Regions from separate parts of the Homo sapiens genome. Here region 1 is linked to region 2. Evidence: fine-mapped expression QTL. A gene starts in region 2. The other region holds a variant in brackets. All regions are shown on one strand. Distances are from middle to middle.

Evidence for each region.
Region 1: its variant is fine-mapped to the expression of PTCH1 in naive CD4 T cells (Schmiedel 2018, PIP 0.95).

Annotation. Positions count from the first base shown.
Region 1 is chr9:95,361,801-95,372,487 of GRCh38, reverse strand. It overlaps LOC105376155 (a long non-coding RNA gene), which reads left to right and starts at 5,383. Exons shown (of 2, transcript XR_930133.3): 1 at 5,383-5,623. RefSeq lists a silencer at 5,387-5,681. The variant G/TTTTG (reference allele first, on the strand shown) is at 4,181.
Region 2 is chr9:95,504,789-95,515,475 of GRCh38, reverse strand. PTCH1 (patched 1) reads left to right here and starts at 6,210. Exons shown (of 24, transcript NM_000264.5): 1 at 6,210-7,315; 2 at 8,877-9,069. The coding sequence starts at 7,115. RefSeq lists enhancers at 2,444-3,416, 3,282-4,043, 4,044-4,807, 5,761-6,310, 7,896-8,529 and silencers at 3,971-4,020, 4,241-4,680, 6,955-7,274, 8,055-8,104, 8,635-8,874 and 2 more.

The DNA.
Region 1 (10,687 bases), 140 kb after region 2:
CCCCCCCACCCAGGAAGCAATCACTGTGACGAGGACATGGAATGTATTATTTAAATTAACCTCCAGGTCACACGCCAACCAGAAGAGTAGGAAAATAGTTCAGTTTATCAGCAAACATATGTTTGGGATGCTGAGTGCAAAGGATGTGGAGATATCTGACTCTGCCCGAGGAGGGTGTGGTGTAGACTGGGAAAGAGGAGGTTGGGGAAGACTTCACAGAAGAGGAGATGTCAGGCCAGGCGCGGTAGCTCACGCCTGTAATCCTAGCACTTTGGGAGGCCGAGGAGGGCAAATCACCTGAGGTCAGAAGTTCAAGACCAGCCTGACCAATATGGTGAAACCCATCTCTACTAAACATAAAAATACAAAAATTAACCAGGCTGTGGTGGTGCGTGCCTGTAATCCCAGCTACTCAGGAGGCTGAGGCAGAAGAATAGCTTGAACCAAGGAGGCGAGGTTGCAGTGAGCCAAGATTGCACCACTGCACTCCAACCTGGGCGACAGGAGACCCTGTCTCAAAAAAAAAGATGTCACTTGGGACCAGAATGTGAAGAACCCTCAGTGTCATGCTAAGAAACTTGAACCTTTAGCTCATCTAAAAAGAAATAAGTTGTTAAAGCAAATCCACAGCATAAACCAGACGGGCTGACTTATGCTACCGATAAAGCATCATTTTCAACAAGTTAGTTGTATGAGAGTCATACAACTATAGGATGAGTACATATCAAATTTTATTCAACTAATTAACGAGGCATCCAGTAAGAGTTCAAAGCTGGTTTTAAGAACATCTGAGGAGCCCAGGAATTTGAGACCAACATAGGCAACATGGAAAGATCCTGTCCCTATAAAAAAATTTAAAAATTAGCCGAGCATGGTGGCGTACACCTGTAGTTCCAGCTACTTGGGAGGCTGAGGTGGGAGGATCATTTGAGTCCAGGAGTCGGAGGTTGCAGTGAGCTGAGATTGTGCCACTGCACTCCAGCCTGGGCGACAGAGTGAGACCCTGTCTCAAAAAAAAAAAAAAAAAAAAAAAAAGCTGGGCACGGCCGCTCATGCCTGTAATCCAAACACTTTGGGAGGCTGAATAGGAGGATTACTTGAGGCCAGGAGGCTTGATTACTTGAGACTGCAATGAGTTATGATCACACCACTGCATTCCAGCCTGGGTGACAGTGAAGCCTTGTCTCTTAAAAAAGAAGGAAGGAAGGAGGAAAGGAAAGAAGGAAGGAAGGAAGGAGAAAGAAAAGAAACAATAAAGAAAACCTAAAAAAAAGAATTCAGAATAACATTACTTGATCAGACATACAAGTAGCTAGTTGTGTTTCAAAAAGAGATGGAAGCCTAACTTTTGGGGTTTTCTACCTGAGAGAAATAATTGGTATTTCCACTGCACACAAATCTACAAGTTAATACTTACTTGCATAGAGTCTGAGTCTTTAATTAAAATAACAAGCAGAGTAAAATAATAGTACAACCTTCTATCCCTAGAGAATGAAATAATCTTTAGATAGGCTTGTTAGACAACGCTTTAGTATGGCCTTAAAAAGACAGTCATTCTCTTGGCTTTATTTCTAAGTTTTGGATAATTTTTCCTAACACCAGAGCAATCTATTTAAGACAGTTTTGTTTTTTAAAGTGGACTTAAGCATGACAGTACTTGCATATCAGTGAATACTGCTAATTGTAGTCAGTTTTAATATTGTCATTAAGAGAGGGCTGGGCGTGGTGGCTCACGGCTGTAATCCCAGCACTTTGGGAGGCCGAGGCGGGCGGAGCACGAGGTCAAGAGATTGAAACCACCCTGGCCAACATGGTGAAACCTCGTCTTTACTAAAAATACAAAAATTAGCTGAGTGTGGTGGCACGTGCCTGTAGTCCCAGCTACTCAGGAGGCTGAGGCAGGAGAATCACTTGAACCCGGGAGGCGGAGGTTGCAGTGAGCCGATATCGCGCCACTGCACTCCAGCCTGGCGACAGAGTGAGACTCCATCTAAAAAAAAAAAAGAGAGAGAGACTTGAAGAGGTTTACAGAAGTAAAGAGCCCAGCAAGAGGAGGCCCCAGTGTCACAGAGACATCTCCAGGGCGTTATTCAGAAAGCAGCTAGCGAGGGAGACATCAGCTCTGAACCCAGCCCAAGCTGTGGGAGTCCCACTCCCTGGTGTCTCTTCTGCCCCTGAAGTGTTTTGGTTAAGAGAGAAAGACATTCCAGACACTCAGTAATCAAGTGCAACCACGCTAAGCCACGTTTAGAGCCACATTTTTGGATAACAGATTTATTAATGGGCTGGTTGAGAGAACTGGACCATGTGGTGTGTGGAGAAATTCAAAATATTTCAAATAAATACTTGGTGTACTTTCTGTCTGACTGCTGTAATGTGTTCAGTTACTCTTATGTTCCCTGTTGAAGATTAATTAAATAGAAATTGCTCACTAAAAATATAGTTCAGAATATTAAAAAGCTAATTAATATAAATTTTTCTAAAAAGGAAGGCATTTATTTCAATAGACGCTCACCTGTCCAAATCCAATTTTTTTGTTTACTGATAAAGTTGTAGGTGGAGTAATTGCCATAGAGAAGAGAATACACCCTATCTACACTTCCAAAAATGAGGATTGCCACATTTAGCAAATAAAAATATGGTATCCCCAGTTAAATGTGAATTTCAGAAAAACAATGAATAATTTTTTAGTGTAAGTATGTCCCATGCAATATTTAGGACACACTTGTGGCAGGTAGAAAAGGGGCCAACAAAGATGTCCATGGACAGATATTCCTAACACTTGGAACATATTCCCTTACATGGCAAAAAGGATTTTGCGGATGTGATTAAGTTAAGGCTTTTCAGAGGGCAGGTCGTCCTGGGTGAAGTGACTGGTCCAAATGTAACCACAGAGTCCTTAGAGGAGGGAGGCAGGAGAGCCAGAGTTAGAAATTGAAGGTGGAGGAAGGACCAACCAGCTGAAGGATGCAGTCGTCTTCTAGAAGTGTGGGAATAGGCAAAGAAACGGACTCTCCTTGAAGTCTTCGGAAGGAGCATGGCCCTCCTAGACACTGATTTGAGCCCCAGGAGACCCCGGGGCTAGCTACCTGCAGCAGTGTTAGATTAATTTGTGTTGCTTTACACCACTGTAATTTGTTACGGAACCAATAAGAAACTCAGATAATGCTTATACTGAAAAAGTTATTTGTTGTTTATCTGAAAATCACATTTACTTGGGGCATCCTGTATTTGTCCTGGCAGCCCGACCTAGAACGCCAGAGCAGGAAGCAGCCGGCAGTGGTGGGAAGCACTGAAACAGCTTCGGGAGGTCCCACTGTCTCGCCTGGGGAGTCTCTTCAGATTCAGGCCTCCAGTCCCTCCAGGGAAATCTGAGGAGCTGTCTGGCCTGGGTGATCACTGAGGCTCCCTCGCAGTCCGTGAGCCTATCTAAGAAAAAGCCTTTTGCCAATACGAATAAAACAACCAGCCTAATTAGCGAATGTTCACAGTTCAGACAATTGCCGCCTCTGGGCTGTGTGCCCCTCTCCTGCCGTCCACTACCCCCTCCGGGAGGCGGCCCACCTGCTGGTGCGTCTGCATTGGGCCCTGCCCAGGGCTGGTGTCCTGGTACTTCTCCCTGTCTCCTCACACCTCCTCCTAACTCTGGGACAGACAACGCCAGGCGGCACTGCATGAGTTTCGTATTGCAAATTACCACACAGCGGCTTAAGAACACAAACTTACTTTAAAGCTCTGAAAGAAAGTCAGAATTCCAAAAAGGATCTTGTGGACCTAAAATAAAAAGTGTCCAGAGAGCTGTGTCCCCACCTCTAGATGCCGCCTGCTCTCCTGGGCTCGCAGCCCCACACCATTCTGCCCTCTGCTTCTAAGAGCGCATCTCCCCTCAGACGCTCACCCGCCCACCTCCCTCTAGTGAGGGGCCTTGTGATTACAGTGGGCCCTCCAGGTAACCCAGGAGAATCCTCCCGTCTAATCACATCTGTAAAGTTGCCTTTGCTGTGGAAGATAACATAATCACAGGTTCCAGTGATTTAGTCATGAACATCATTGGGGGGCCATTATTCCACCTATGACACCTACCTAATGTCTATTCTTCCCTTCCTTCTAACAGAATCATTATTTTGTTCAGGGTGACAATATGCTTGGCTAAAGAATTTTTTTTTTTTTTTTTTTTTTT[G/TTTTG]AGGCGGGGTCTCGCTCTGTCGCGCAGGCTGGAGTGCAGTGGCGCGATCTCGGCTCACTGCAAGCTCCGCCTCCCAGGTTCACGCCATTCTCCTGCCTCAGCCTCCCGAGTAGCTGGGACTACAGGCACCTGCCACCACGCCCGGCTAATTTTTTGTATTTTCAGTAGAGACGGGGTTTCATCGTGTTACCCAGCACAGTCTCGATCTCCTGACCTTGTGATCCGCCCACCTCGGCCTCCCAAAGTGCTGGGATTACAGGCGTAAGCCACCGTGCCCAGCCAAGAATTTTTATTTACAAAGCTGCCTTGAAGCTTCCTGCAGTCATGTGGCTGATGAGATGTTAGTAGACGTCTGCTGGCCAATGAGAAGTAGGAGTCTGGCTTCCCAGAAGGCTGCTGTTTTCCCAATTAAAAGATGGAGACTCACTTGGCATATACCTTTTGTTCTCTCTCATGACCTCTTCATCCTCATGGAAAATGAACGTGATACCTGGAAGGGCAGCCACTATATTGTGACCTTGACAATGAAAATCACTCAAAAAAGATGACGAAGCAAAGAAAAGTGGATAAATCTGCAAGGAAAAGTGGACAGCTCCACCATCCCTGAGACACTGTGGAAAAGACTCCTTCTTCCCTGTCTGCCAAGCTTCAGATTTCTAGATTCATGAAAACGGAGAAACTTTATTTATTTATTTATTTAAGGCAGAGTCTCGCTCTGTCACCCAGGCTGGAGTGCGATGGTGTGATCTCGGCTCACTGCAACCTCTGCTTCCTGGGTCCAAGCCATTCTCCTACCTCAGTCTCCTGAGTAGCTGGGATTACAGGCGCCCGCCATCACTCCCAGCTAATTTTTGTATTTTTAGTAGAGACAGGATTTCAGCATGTTGGCCAGGCTAGTCTCAAACTCCTGACCTCCAGTGATCCACCTGCCTCGGCCTCCTAAAGTACTGGGAGTACAGGCGCATGCCACCACACCTGGCTAATTCTTGTATTTTTGTAGACAGGGCTTAGCCATGTTGGTCAGGCTGGTCACAAACTCTTGACTTCATGTGATCCTCCTGCCTTGGCCTCCCAAAGTGCTGGGATTACAGGCATAAACCACTGCACCTGGCCTGGGAGGAACTTTTAATTGTGGGAGGCTGGTAGTCAGTTAAATGCAGCGGAAACCAGTTATAACAGATGCAAGCTCTGTCTAAATCCTCACTACTTAAAGCGTGCTCCTGTGGGAGCAGCAGGGACAGCCCCTGGGAATGTGTTGGAAATGCAGAATCCAGGGCCCCCCACAGACCTGAACCAGAATCTGCATTTTAACAAGATCCCCAGGGAATTGCTCTGTATGCCCTTCGGAGTCACCACAGCTCTGGAGCCCACAGAAGCTGAGAGGGAAAGTGCCCTGGATTCCTTCACCCTGTGCTTGAAGACACGGCCTGTCTGGCAACAATAGTAAGTACTCTTGGAATTTACTGGAACGAACGTCAAACCGTGGGAGGTGGGTGCAAAATTGTATATACAGTCGTCAAGTCTGCTTCTCACCCCACCACCACCAATTACCCTGATTTAGTTCTTTTCTTTTCTCCCTAAAATTGTATATTTCATGATTAGTCAGCCTAAGACTCCTACATCCATTTCATTCAATCAAGACCAACATTGATAAGAAGTTGAAGACCGGGTGAAATCAGGAAAAAGTGGAAAATTACCTCCTTTTAAAAGTTTCTTAAAACTTTTAAAAACTTTTGGTGGTTTGTAAATAGACCTGAAATTTCTTTGATGCTATCAGCCACCCAGATGAATGAAGTGCAGTATATAAAGCCCCCGACTTACGATTCAACTTGGGATTTCTTTTGACTTTAAAATTTTTTGACTTTATGACTTTAACCCCATCGTAAGTTAAGGAACATCTGTAAATATATAAATCCACAGAGAGGAAGAAAGATCCAGAGAGCCTTTCAACACACTGCATTTCTCATTTCCATTAAATCCCTCAAGTTATACATTTAATATGGACTGTAAATTGTGTACTCATTTTTCTTCAATGATTTCTATTCAGAATATTACAAAGAAAGAGTTAGATTAAAGCCCAGCTACTGTTTCCTGGGGACTGGAGGGGACGTCAGGGAAGTGAGTAGATCATCCAGCTGACTTTGCCCTCTTGTTCTGGGAGGGTTTTTAAATTTATTTTTTAAATAGGTAAATCCAAAAGGTATATAAGCATATATATAGACAGTGAAAAGTCTCCTTTTCCTTCAGTCCCTCCCTCCAACTGCCAAATTTCCCTCTCTCAAAGCAACTCTGTTACCGGTTTCTTGAGAATCCTACCACGTGAGCACGCTGCATGCTGGAAGAGGCTAAAACATGTGGCTGAAAAACAAGAGGGGAGTGTGTAGACGGCTTGGAATTGTTCTTGAGGGCATGCATTAAAATTAATCTTTGTCATCATCCAATTGCTTTCTGTTAAGATCTTCTGCTGGCATTTAATTTTTCCAATCATAGATAAAATATCTGTCAAGTAAAGAGCCAGAGTTGCCACCTACTTGTTCCAGAGGATTAAGGAGATAACGTTTATAAAACACTTGGAGCATCTCAGAGGAAGGCTCTGAATAAACAGAAACACTTGTTAAAGCTGCAGCCCTCTTCTACATAATTTACATTTTATCACTCTGTCCTCACCCCCAGCCCACTACATACTTGCCCCCACCTCCTTGCAGCACGGTTTAAGGGTGAGAGGTTAATAAGAAAGGGTGATTGATGTAAGGCAAGACTAAGTAGACTGCTTTGAGGATTTTTGCTTTGTTTCCTAAAGCTTCCCAACTCGTCTGCTCTTTAAAGAACCTGGAGTTTTTTTCAAAAAGAGAGACACCTAATTGCATAAGTCAACTTTGTAGTTGTGTGGCTTTATTTAATAATTCAAATAATTTAAGAATATTTTCTTTTTTTAAAAAATGGATAATTTACATCCTTTCTTGTTTCACTTATTAATATGTTATGAGCATTACTGTTGTGAACAGCTGTGTTGATATAGCATGATTATTTGAAAAATAAGAAGTGTTTCTGTAATTAAAGATACCCATAAGGAGACTTGGTTCACATTTATGCAGTAAATTGATATATGCACGTTCAGGGCCTACTATGTGCTAAAACAAAAATGGACACCACAGAGATACCTAAGATGTTTTCCCTGCCCAATACAAAGCCCTCGGTGACAAGTGTGAAATTGGAGGATTCAGAGGGCATTTTCTTGCACCTGACAAATAAGGTTGTTTGCTTAAATTGCTGCACTTTAGGAAGACTTTGTTTTGTCCTAGATCACTTTGAGTACCCCAGTGGTCTTATAGACAAATGAATAGACTTTTCTAAGAGATAAAAGCCCCCACATAAAGATTCTAGGAAAAAATATGAAACCATCTCTGGGAAGGGATATAAAAATCATAAGTTACTAAAGTAGATAGAAATAATAGACTATCTACTATCTACTACTAAATATAATAGAATATTTAAAAGTATTTCCCTTTTAAATATAAAATCTTTAATTGTAAAACTGTTGGGCAAAGAGCTGAATGATGGTTTAAGCCATATGAAAGGCAAGTCTGCAGATCAGCTAATTATTGGCCAAAACGATAATTGCCCTGTACCTTCCAAATTAAAGGACACAGCCCATAAAGATAGTAGTAAGAGTTTATGTTTCCTTCTCCTTAATCTTGTACAAGAGTTAACCTCCTAGACCCAAGACATTTCCAGCAATTAGTGATGGGTTGAAGTTAACAGTGCTGACAAAGCCTTGGTCACTGATCCCTTCGGCTTGTCATTAACCTCTAAAACTGCTAAATATGATGCAAAAAAAGTATTTCACCAATATTATTTAAAAGACTGTATCATATTTCATACATAAATTTCCAATGTAGAAAAATCTCTTACAATGTATATATGTGTGCAAGGTAGTTTAAAGGTTTTTTTAGTTTTTTATTTCCAGAATTTTCTTCCAGTATAAAAGAGTAATTTGAGGTAAATATTCTATGTATATAGGGAAGGAAAACTATTACTAAGATCAGGCATTCCAAAATGTTTTTCAAAGAAAAGGGTTATAAAATTCACTTTAAAAAACGGGAATCTTTGTTTTTGCCTATTAGCACTTTGAATGAATTTATTGAAAGTTTTAAGCAGAGTGAAAAATTGGATCATAGGTTAGTGTCCTCTTGAAAATGGTGGTGTATGTTTCTCATACTCTTAAAAGAACAAAAGGTAAAATATCATTGAAAGAACACAAACATAGCCCCATTTATTATTATAACTACAAATCATATTTTCGTAGTAACTTGTTCTGATTTAAGAATTTTCATAAGAAAAGATATGAAGTCTCAATGGATTGTAATGTTACTGACTCTATTCAACATGTAATAAGCTTTACTCTGATTTTATATCCTGAGTCCATAAAGCTTATTAAATGACACTTCAAAATTTCTTTCAATGGTGGAAGCTTTGGTTAAGTGAAAAAGCCTGTTGGGGTTTTCCCCCTGTAGTTTTCTAATTAGGGCTTCCTTATTACATCACAAACATTAATCACCACATTATCCAGTAACAGATCAGACTTACCCTATCTTTCAGATCCTCATTAATCTACTAGTAAAGTTATGAGCTCCATTAACATGGTTACATTTAGAAAGTCTCCCTGAAGCACAGTACATCCATTACTGGGGCTGAATAACCCAACAGCTATGTGTCTTATCCAGTCCAGATACGTTTTTGAAATGTCAACTTTGACAGAGAAACTTTCTGTGCACCCCCCACATAGGAATCCTACAGAATATTTGCTTTATTTACTGCTTGGGGTACTATTTTAGCAGAAGATAAATTCTCCGAGCAGGATCAAGTTTGCATTTTGCAGAGACGGAGCCATCTGTTGTTGTCCAGAGCTTGGCTGTGTTCCATTTGGAATGCAGGGCCAGCCCCGGTTAAAAAAGAATGTGAACTCTTCCTAGTGTGATCACCCCCACAAACAGAGAGAACGCTGCAAGTTCCTTGCAATCCTAAACCAGCCAGCACTTCCTGAACACCTGCCCTGAACACAAATGTTCCTTTGGTGAGTGACAGTGAAAATGACAGGGCGTCAAGTTCACCTGGCCATGTCCACATCGATGAACCAACCTGGCCAGTAGACGCAGAGCCCACTGTGGTTCTGCAAGAGCACACATCGGGGAAAGGTGCTCTGGTGCGTTCACACGGTCTTCAGATTGCTCAGAAAGGCGTATCATTTTCTAGATTTAGGGAGTGTGGGCTTTTATTTCAGAACTTTACAAAAAGAAGTGTCTAAGTCTCTCAGCTTACCTTGGAGTTGAATTTATTGCATTCATGGCTGGATTTGTCAATTACTGTTTGCTTTCCGTCCTTCCATAGGGTGCTATATAGACGTAAGCAAGCCATTTCCTTCTAGAGGATGCAAAAATGAATAAACAGTTAACAACGTATGCTACATACATATGGCATTTATCATCAGACTCATTTAAGAGAACCTAGATAAATAGAAAGACACTCTTTTTTTTATGAAGAGGGAGTCTCACTCTGTCACCCAGGCTGGAGTGCAGTGGCGCGATCTCAGCTCACTGCAACCTCTGTCTCCTGGGTTCAAGCGATTGTCCCGCCTCAGCCTCCCAAGTAGCTGGGATTACAGGCACCCACCACTATGCCCAGCTAATTTTTTGTATTTTTAGTAGAGACAGGAGTTTCGCCATGTTGGCCAGGCTGGTCTCAAACTCCTGACCTCGTGATTCACCCACCTCAGCCTCCCAAAGTAGGCATGAGCCACCGCACCCAGCCTAGAAAGATACCCTTAAGGAATTTTAAAATATTAGAAAATATTTTCCTGAGGAGAAACATGTTGAAGTCAATGAATATTTTGTTCAAAATGTCAAATGGATAAGACAAAATTCAAAGATAGACAAGGTGAAGGAAGGGAAATACCAATAAAAAAAAGAAAGTCTATTAAAACAAAACTCAGGAGACTTAAAAAAAAATTTCAAAGATTAGAAATTACGTATTTGTGAGCAGAGTAATGTGGTTATCAAATTTTTCTGCAAAACAATCTAGTTTTGGAATTTGAGGACTGTGTTTCATTCTTTTTTTTTTTTTTTTGTAAGTCGGAGTCTCGCTCTGTTGCCCAGGCTGGAGTGCAGTGGCCCAATGTCGGCTCATTGCAAGCTCTGCCTCCCGGGTTCACGCCATTCTCCTGCCTCAGCCTCCCGAGTAGCTGGGACTACAGCCACCAAGCCCGGCTAATTTTTTGTATTTTTAGTAGAGACAGAGTTTCACCGTGTTAGCCAGGATGGTCTCGATCTCCTGACCTCATGATCTGCCCGCCTCAGCCTCCCAAAGTGCTGGTATTACAGGTGTGAGCCACCACGCCTGGACTGTGTTTCATTCTTGAGGTCAAGGACATCCTATATCATTTAGTGAGCTTCATGCAAGAAATGGTAAGGGAAAATGAAATAAGCCTGGAAATAAATGAACAGTGTCCTG
Region 2 (10,687 bases):
GTTTCCATCACCTAAGAAGAACCATATGGGTGGGCGGCTGTGGAAGACACCCACAGACCTGTTTTCCTGCACCTGGGAGAGAAGACCGTCTTCCTCCCTTTTTATCCTTTCTTCCTCCCTGGGGAGGAGAAATACAAAAGAACTAGACATAAATAATAAAGAGCCACAATGGGTGGCTCTAAATATTTGATAATTGGATCACTGAGGTCTTGAACTACCACAATAGTCCTTTTTCAGCATTCTGTGTGTGTGCATTTCTTTTAGGTTTTTATTTATTTCTGTGTTTATTGGCGACAGTAGTTCAGCATGCAATTAATCGCCTCCACAAAGAAAGACAATGCTTTATGGTGTCATCCTTTGTTATTGCAACTTAAAATTTCTGGGTGGTACTCCGGATAAATTGTTGCCTCAGGTGCATGGAGTGCCCAAGTTGTAAAACAAGGGGCTTTCGATTGTGAGTTTATGTGTGTTCCAGTTGTCACCCAGCTTCCTTCCACAAGGCTATAAAATGCCTTTGAGTCCATGATCTGTTTCAATTAAAATGTTGAATCAAGGTAGACATCAATAGGCCCCGCCATTCTCAATTTGGGGTATTAGCTTCATTTCAAACTCACTGTGAGTGGTGTATCTAATTTCTGGTTATAAAGTAGTCATAATCTTTGAAGCTATTTGAACAAAACTTAGAACCATTTGGAATTATTTTCTGAAAAGAAAAAGGCTGTTTTACAAAATTATCTTCAACTTTCTACAGATAGATAAACTGATGAGGTTAATCAATGTGGATTAAAATATGTCTCCCGTTTTTATCCTCATTCCTCTCTCTCTCTCACACACACACACACACACACACACACCTTTTATTTTCTCCAGCCTCTGCCACAGTGTATAATGCCCTATTGAGACGTGTAGGCGTGATGTGTAAACCGGATTAGCAGTATGAAAGAAAGACACACAATAAGCTGGAATTGTTTTACTTCCCTTTCATTTCTCATGCCTATATTTCTGATAAATTTGTTGCTCCAGCAGTGGGTCAAAGGGATCATGTTGCTCAGCTTCTTTTTCATGCAGGACCCAATAGCAGAGATCACTGAAATGAATGGTGTGCCTCCTAGCAAACGCAAAGCTTGATAGAGATATATTAGACAGGGAGAGGCGAGGAGAGGGAAGGATGCAAAACATGTTCAAAGTCTGGGTGTTGTAGGAATACATCTCTATCCATGAGAGGAAAGCAATGTGGGTAAGAATATATTTGGAGAGAGAGGGATCAATGCAGGGGTCAATGCTCTGTTTTCTTTCAAGTTCATAGTAGGCTCTGAACATTCAGCAGTTGGTGACATGCTTAGCAAGAGAATACCAATAGCTTTTGGCAATACATAAAGTCTAATTCCCCTTTCAAGCTAGTATTTAGACCTGGAGTAATCAATGTGGAGATTTCTGGGACCTTCTCAGGACACTCCCCTCTGCCGCTTTCCCCACCCCCAGCTCACTGTAAGCTCAAAAAATGCCAGTGCTCCCGGGTTTGTGCTGTAGACCCCTCATTTACTCCTTTGTGGAGTTAGGAGCAGCTTCCCATTAAAGGAGATCAGGGGTAATTAGCAGCATTATTTTGACAAGTTGGCTAGAGCTGTTCCCTTTCCTCCAGCCTGGGGAGGGGGTAAATAAGGGGAGGAAACAGAAGGTGGAAGGGAGTAGGGGAGGGGAGTCAAGCCCAGTAGTTTTAAATTTTGTAGCTGCTGAATCTCCCCCCACCCCGTCCCCGACTTCCCTGAAACCTTTTAGACTCATTTTCTACCATCACCTTTTAAGAATATACAAAAGCTGCCAATGAGAAAATAGTAAGGCATTCTTAGGGAGCCAAGAAAATGTGGTGGATGGTGGCACATTGGCTTGAGTTGAGTCGACTCAACTCATATTCAAGGTACCTGCTTGGAACTGCTGAAGCCCTGCCTTGACCATCACTCACATCCTGTATCCTGGGCTCCCCATGCAGTAAAAGAATATTGCATCAAATCCCCAATTCCTCTCTCCATCCGACCCTCTCAACAAAAATACTGTAGGACTTAAAATCATGTTTGCAATTCCTTGTATTTCTGGAAGAGTATTAAACTCAGTAGACAAAATTATAAATGGCCCCAGGGTCAAATTACTGGAATACATTAACCCCTTTATTCATTTATACTCTGCAAAACTTGCCAAATTACATTGGATTTTAAAGACTCATTTGGTTTGATCTGAGAAACCAGTGAAAAGTTAAATCTCACTGTGGTTTTTCATAACTCCACCAAGTCTGGCTTCCACAATTGCTTACCATTGGAACATCCCAACACAAAGGGCAGATGTTTTATTTCATTGTCATCATTTGGATAATCTGATGTCATTTTTGAAATGTGTGTGGTGTGGCCATGGATATTTGTAGTATTGGAACAGAGAAGGGAGGAGATGTGAGGGAATCCGGAGAGCTTAAGGCATCTGCTTTGAAAACTACACACTCCAATGAGAAGTCTTGGATCATGACTGGGAGACCAAAATGACAATTTATGCATTGAGATGAACTTTACTTGGAAAGGGGAAATGGAACACTCAGCTGTTGCTTCATAAAGGCTGGCAACTCCTGCTGGCTGATAAGGCCCCAAGTTCTCACTTATTTTTATTTGGTAACTGTCACAAGGGGTGCCAGAGGCAGAAGGGCCATTTAAAGGGACTGTCTTCCCGGAGGACACCTTAGCAGGTCTGGCTGCCCCAGTCTGCATCTCAGATCTGTGGAATCCTTGTGGTTAGTTGAAGTTAACAAACCCGGTGTGGCACAGCAGTCCCCTGCACAGGGCATGCATATTAAAGCCGACAATGCTTACAAATGTAAATAAGGGCAGATTGATTAGGAACAACATTATCGCTGGGAATGTCGCACTCGCATGCATCAGCAATGAGGCAAATTGGGGGCAGCCTCAGCCCTGACCACCCAAGTCGAGCAGGCTTTTACACTGGCTCCTCTTCCCTTTCTTAAAACGTTACAGAAACAAGGCCAATTAGATCCTCAAAGTAATTCATCTCTAAGTATGAAAAAAGCAGACCACAGGGGAAGCGGCGGGTGGGGGGTGGGGAGATTAAGATAGCGCTCGTTAGAGCCGAGGCTCCGGAGTGCGTCCTGGAACCCACGGGTAGAATTTACAGGCCGGGACCATTGTCTGAGATGCTGAAAAGTTAACCCATCAAACAGCGGGCGAGGGGGCTCAGGGCACTGAAAGCTCCGGGGATCAATGTTCAAAACGTTTAGGAATTAAGTCAAACTAAGGGATATGGGCCTGAGTGGAAGAGGCTTTGCCACTGAAATGACGTGCATGTGGCAGCCGCCGGAACCAGAGGACATGCAGCCGCGTGCGGAGAGTGAGGCGGATCCATTACGGGCACACAGCTTACCATTTCCTTCCAGAATTCCTTCTTCCAAACAAGCTATACTGAAATCCCTCTAGTAAAAGATTGAGACGAAACACTAATAGTTTTGGGCCAAAACGTGGTGGAGAAGTTTGAAAAGACAAACATAGCAACGTGTCTTTGGCTATATGGTTCCTTGCCCTCCAGCAAGCTTGAAATATAAAAAGGCTAACATGCAAAACTAGGGGTACTACCCCCCTCCCCCAGTTTTTAAAAAGCAATTTCCAGAAGCAAACACACAATGGTTCGACTTGAAGTGTCGGCATAACCATTCAGTAAGAAAAGCTAGAATAGTAAACCTCTTTTCCTGTTTTGTGCTATTTATCAAACCTAATAAACATCAGGATCGTACTCAAAGATGAAACTGGCAATGTGTGGAGCCGTCTGAGCTCTTTATCAACTCAGTGTCATTTTCCTCGCATGCTGCCCGCCTGCTTTCCGAGTTTCCGCAGCCCTTCCCTGAGGCACTCACAAAATCACGTGCTCCTTAAGCGGTCTGAGTTTTGAATTTCCGCGCTGGCCCGGTGCTCAGGTCCCCCTCCGGATCCCGCGAACGCCCCCAAACACCTCCACCCCGTCTCCCTCTCTTCCTCGGGACATCCCGCCCTGACCCCGGCACCGCATACGGTTTGCGGGTTAGGGGGTCGGGGGAAGGGCCTCCCCCTGAAGCCGGGGAGGAGGAGAGGCTGGAGGGAAGGTGGCCAGGCTGGTGGGGGAGGGGAGATTGAGGGAGGGAGCGGGGCGAGGGAGGAAGGAGAAGGCGCAGGCCGAAGGAAGGAAGCGGGGAGGGGAAACCGCCGGGGAGGAAGGAAGGGGGCGGGGAGAGCCGGCGGACGGGCCCCCTGCGGGAGCCGCGTGGACCGCCCCGGTGGCCGGCGCGCCCCGCCGCAGCCCCCAGCGCGCCCGGGCAGCCAGCGCGGGGCCGCTGAATGGGCAGGGACTCGTGAGCGCGACCATTGGCCGGTCGCGGGGAGGCGGCGCGGGCATTGGGCAGCGTAAGGGGGCCGGTCCGCCTTCAGGAATGTACTACGGCGCGTCCGGCACGTCCGTCCGCGCCGGCTGGGCGCGCGCCTCGCCTGGGCTCTCGGGAGACCGCGCTGGAGGCCCGGAGCCGGCCCGGCGCATCCGCCTCCCTACCTACTCTGCCCCGGCCGCGCGGGCGCGGGGAGTCCGGGAGCCGGGCGCGCGCGCGCACCGGGCCTCCTGGCGCGGGGTCACGTGGCCACCGGAGCTCCGCCTTCTCCCTGCTCCTCCCCCTTTCCCTCCATCTGGGTTTCTTTCTTTCCTTTCCTTTCTTTCTTCTTTTTTTTTCAATGAACATACACCGTGCGCATCTTAAAGCCACACCGCCCCATTTCACGACTTCACTAGACTTCTCGCTACTGCCAGTCCCTCTGCAGTTCAACCCCGTTTAAAAAAAAAAATAAAGTGAAGCAAATCAAGGGTTTGCGGGTCGGGTTCCTACCGCAGGGAGGAACGTAATAACTTGGAAACGTAAGAAAAACACATTCCACTTTCCGAAAACAAAAATTTTTTTAAATAAAAAGCCTAGTTGTGTAGACGTGTCTGGCTCCAGAATCCACCTCAAAGGGTCGCGTGTTTTCCCCCTCCGCGGGAAGCGAATCCCCGGGATGCCTTGGTGACACTGGACGCGGTGTCGGGACGAATCCTCGCGATCCGCGCACAGTTTGTTTTCAATGAATCCAGCATCGGGGCATTTATAATCTCCTACGTCATACTATTATTAAATATAACATGCATACCGAGTTTTGTAAAAAAAAATACTGACTATATAAACATCTGGTTAATAAAAAGGGGTGTACAAATGAACCCAAAATAATCAGGAAAACTTTACTCTCTCAAGGAAACAATTCCGTTTCTCTAAGTTGTAAAAAAAGATTCTGTTGTTTCTCTTTTACTTATGTCACATTCGAGATTCAAATAAAAACGCCTCTGCCTCTACAAGACTGCTTCGGTGTCTGGATTCCACGTTTATAGAACACTGACTCCTTCAAACCAAGACTGTGTTTTTTTTTTTTTTAAGTTGGGGGGAGAAAGCGGCTGGGGGGCAGACGGATTTTAAGAAAGATGGCTTTTCCCAACGTCCTTGCTTTCCTCTTTAACTTTCCATTCTGTTTATCTTAATGCGAGGCGTTGTTCCCTGCAAGAGCCTAAGTCTTCCCTTTAGTTATAAAAGAAAAGAGAAGAGGAAAAAAAAATCTGGCACACACTGGCGCACTATCCAGCACGCTGTCATTATTGGTGCAGGCCTGGGAATGCGAGCCGGACCTCCCAGTATTTGCTGCAGCTTGAGGCCAAGGTGCCTCTGAAAGGCTTTTCTTTGAGGAATTTCAGAAATTGTTTAAGCGCTTAAAAAAATATTACATTTCCCCCCGTGTCTACCGCGAGGCAAATGTTCGTGTGTGTGCGTGCGCGCGCGTGTGTGCGCGCAAAGGCATCCCACAAAAAGAAGACACTGTTGAAAAGAAAAGGAATAAGAGAGAAAGGAGGGGGAGCATTCCTTAATGGAAGTATTGCATGCGAGAAGGTTGGCGCTCTCAGAGGCTGCCCCGAAGCCGAGGATGCACACACTGGGTTGCCTACCTGGGTGGTCTCTCTACTTTGGTGAGCTGTTGCTAAGCAGCTAATAATAGTCATGTTTGCTGAGTAATTTCTGCCCTCCGCGAGCCAATCGCGTCGCAGAAACCCAAGCCATCTGACAGCCCCGGGGGCGGGAGCTCCAGCCTTTTTCTCTTTCGCTCGCTCTCTCCCCCTCCACCCCCTCCCCTCCCCTCCTCCTCTTCTTTCTCCAAATGGAGAGAGTTCTTTTTTTTCTTCTTCCATCTCATCTATTGAATCAAGGAGCTGCTGCGGCCGCTGCCCGCTGCACACACACAGAGCGGAGTCCCCAGGTCCCGGGAGCGAGAGAGGCGCGCTGCACGGGGACAGAATGGTCCAGCGGGTTGCCGAGGAGCACAAGAAAGCAGAGTCCGGGACCGAGCAGCCACCGCGAACCCAGCAGCCAGAGCCCGAGCAGCCCGAGCAGCAGCTCCTGGAGCCGCCACCGCCAGCAGCAGCCACCGCGGGAGCAGCGGCAGCTGCGGCTGCCCGGGCCCGGCAGCGCTGAGACCCGCCGGGCACCCTCGGACCCCGCGGCGGCGGCGGCTCTGCGCTTGCCCTCCGCGGCCGCTCGGGCGACCCGGGAGGCGCCGAGAGAGCCAGCGCGGCCGGCGGGAGCAGCGGGGATTCGCTGGCTCTTTCTGCAGTGAAGGGGTCGCGGCGCGGGGCGGGGGGCGGGTAGGGGGAGTTGGGGACCGCAAGGAGTGCCGCGGAAGCGCCCGAAGGACAGGCTCGCTCGGCGCGCCGGCTCTCGCTCTTCCGCGAACTGGATGTGGGCAGCGGCGGCCGCAGAGACCTCGGGACCCCCGCGCAATGTGGCAATGGAAGGCGCAGGGTCTGACTCCCCGGCAGCGGCCGCGGCCGCAGCGGCAGCAGCGCCCGCCGTGTGAGCAGCAGCAGCGGCTGGTCTGTCAACCGGAGCCCGAGCCCGAGCAGCCTGCGGCCAGCAGCGTCCTCGCAAGCCGAGCGCCCAGGCGCGCCAGGAGCCCGCAGCAGCGGCAGCAGCGCGCCGGGCCGCCCGGGAAGCCTCCGTCCCCGCGGCGGCGGCGGCGGCGGCGGCAACATGGCCTCGGCTGGTAACGCCGCCGAGCCCCAGGACCGCGGCGGCGGCGGCAGCGGCTGTATCGGTGCCCCGGGACGGCCGGCTGGAGGCGGGAGGCGCAGACGGACGGGGGGGCTGCGCCGTGCTGCCGCGCCGGACCGGGACTATCTGCACCGGCCCAGCTACTGCGACGCCGCCTTCGCTCTGGAGCAGATTTCCAAGGTGCATTTCAGACTCTCTCCTCCCACTTTCTCTTCCCTCCTCTAACTCTTTGGGATCGCCCCCGCCACACACAAACACACACACTCTCTTCCTCTCTCTCTCACACACACACACACACTCACTCACACCTCTCCAGGAAAAGCAGCAGACAAATGGGGATTGAAAAATTCAAACCCTCCCTCTGGTCCTGGGAGGAAAGGGCTGTCTGAGGTCCGCAGGGGGTGGAGGTGTGTGTGTGTGCGTGTGTGTGTGTGTATACACACGCCCTCCCTGGTGTGCCTTTTCCGGAGCACTGGAAAGCCGTCCACGGCGGACCACCTCAAGGGCGGCCGCGGCACTGTCCTGCCCCGTGCCCCCTGCCCTGAACTTCTTCCTCCTGCGCCCCTGCCCCTATTTGCAGCCTAAACTCCTGTACGGCTGCCACATTTCTTAACATCTTGGAGGGGGAGGCGGAGTGGAGAGAGGCGGAGAGAGGAAGGGGGGAGGGAGCCGAAATAAAGGTGGTTTCCTTTTTTGGCAGCCAGTTTTGGTTTTGTTGAGCATGAAATCTCTGCTCCCTTAAAAAATTATTCTCGGAAAAAGATATCCCCCCCGTTTTCCAGGTTTTGAGCCGCCTCTCCTTAGGGCCTGGTCGGGGGAGGAAAAGTTGTAAACAAATTGCCACCTTAAATTCGCGGTGCGAGTCTGCGGAGCTGCCGGGTTCATTGTGTTTACGAGGCTCGCTGAAATGTGTGGAATCCAGGGAAGGCGAGCACCCAGACGGGGGCCCGCCGGGGCCGCGGCCAGCGCCGGGGAAATGCCGCGCCGGGGAGCAGCCTGCGCCGGCCTGAGCCCTTCCCTTTGCACTCGGCTGTTTTTTACGTTTAACCAGAAAGGAAGGGAGAGGAGGGAAAGATCCATGTGGCTGCCCTCTTCCGATCACAAATATTGTCGTAAGTTGCAGCTGGCTGCCCCACTTCCTAATTCAGCTCACACAGCCTCTCCCCACGCTATGGAAATGCGTCGGGAGTGAACTCCGGCGGCCGCGCTCACCACGTGGATCCCCACTTACTACCATTCTCGGCGGGGGTCCAGTTGGGGGAACCCGCAATATGTTGTTCCAAAGAGCGCTCGCCCCTAGCGCCCGTCCCCGAGGGTGATGGACAGAGCAGGACTGGTTTGCTGGCTCCTGAACCTTGGGCTCCATCGCTGGGATTACGCAGCCCCTCCCTTCTCAGCTCTGGGGTGAATATTGTCTGTGTCGAGTGGTTTCTCTCCTCTCTACCTCGGCTTCCTCTTCTGTATTGCAGCCCCAGTGCCCCAAGTCGCTCAGGGATCCCGCGGGTGGGGGCGCCCTGATGTCCCCGAGGTGCAGCTCCCACGCTGCGGCCCGGCTTTATGACCGAGCCCCCCATGACGCTCAGATCCGCCGGGGCTGCAGTCTCGAGGGCGAGTCCGTGTGCCGCGGCCACCCGCGCCCCCACGGCTGTTGGGGGCTCACCGGGCGGGTGCGCGCAAGCGGGCGTGGGCGCGCGGGCCGCGACTCCCCGGCGCTCACTCCTCCCTTCTGCTTCGTCCCCAGGGGAAGGCTACTGGCCGGAAAGCGCCGCTGTGGCTGAGAGCGAAGTTTCAGAGACTCTTATTTAAACTGGGTTGTTACATTCAAAAAAACTGCGGCAAGTTCTTGGTTGTGGGCCTCCTCATATTTGGGGCCTTCGCGGTGGGATTAAAAGCAGCGAACCTCGAGACCAACGTGGAGGAGCTGTGGGTGGAAGGTAAGAGCGCCCGCCGCGGCGCCCGCGCCCCCGGCCCGGTCCCTCCTCGCGGTTGATAGAGATATTCGCCAGCGCACACCTAGAGCCTGGCTGCGGCCGGCGAAACCCCCTGCCCGCACCCGGGGGATTGTTTATTGTTTGGGCGCCTGGCCGGGAGCCAGGCCCGCCCGACAAAGGCCGCGCTGTAATCTACTCGGGGCGCTGCGCCGGCCGAGGTGTGGTGGGAGAGAGCGGCGGGGGCGGGACGGGGGCGCGGGGCCCCTCCGGGACGGACCACTCTGCGCGCCGGGGGCCCCGGGCCCGCCGCCGCTGCCGCTGTCCGCCTGGGCCGCGCCCCGAGAGGCGCCCCGGGGCTGGCCTCTCCCGGCCCCGCTCCGCGGCCCGGCTTTCTTCTCTCCCCCACCCCCACCCACCGCGTCCAAAGAAAAAGGAGTCGGGGAGAGCCAGAGGCCACCCCTCCGGCTGGCTGGAGTGTGCGCGCCCCCGGCGGCCGCGGCCGCCGCGCTGGGGAGGGCCGGGGGCGGGCGCAGCGCGGGGCTGCGGAGGCGGCGGCGTGTGTGGTCCTGTTTTTGGACAGCTTTCAACTCTGAGGGAAAAAAACATTTGTCTCAAGGTACAAAAAACGCGGGGTGGGGGTGGAAGGAGTGGAAAAAAAAATAGTAAGGCACAGACTGGAACGCATGTTTGCAAAGTAGATTAATGTTTCCTCGCGGGTGGGGGCTTTTTACATGGAATTATTCTGGGGGAAGGCTGCATTTTGCAGGCAAAGAAAAGAAATGTTTTAAGAACGCGGGGTTGAAGGGACCTCTCAGAGGGGTTCTGCCAGTCTTTTATCCACGTTCCTCAGTTTTGGGGTTCTTGAGACCTTAGCAAAGCAGTTGCAGATTTAAAATAGATATATATTTTTTCGAAGACAAACATTTTTACATTATTTTGGTGACAAAGGTTTCAATTTTTTTCCCCCGCTGGTTTCTTATTTATCTTTTTGGCAAGTTCCAAATCCTGCTATTTGGAAACACTTTAACCCTAAACACCACTTTGGGCATCCCTTACCTTACAAGAGGGTAGTAGGGGAGGGTAGAGGTGACTAGGTAGATAATTCAAACCAAAATACCTGGAGCATTCCTCCGGACAGCATGTGGAAGCTGAAGAGTTATGCGCATAATCGCTTCAGTGATCCCTTTCAGGATGCTGTTGGAGACCTTGAAGAATATTTCCTTAATCTCTCCTTGTTTGTGAAGATTCAGCTTGCAGAGTTTTGCAAGCCTGGGGTGGAGTTGGAGTATTTAGTTGAGAAGTGACAATTAAAATAATAGTCTACATAATTAAGACAAAACATTCCTGCCTTAAGTAGTTTGGTAATTAATACAAAAGCGTTCTTTGGATTGAATCCATGGAGTAATTTACCTCAGTTCAGCGATTCAGTATCACTGGTAGATAAAAGAAGGGTTTTATCGAGCAGCTATTATGCTCCTAGCAACAAGTTTCTTGAGCACCTATGATGTCCCTAGCACTGTGTTAAGCACCATAAGAGACTCAAGTGTGTGCGACACTGCACAATTTAAAACTATTAGAATTCGATGCATTTGGACTACATTTGGGTTCACAGCTGAAATGG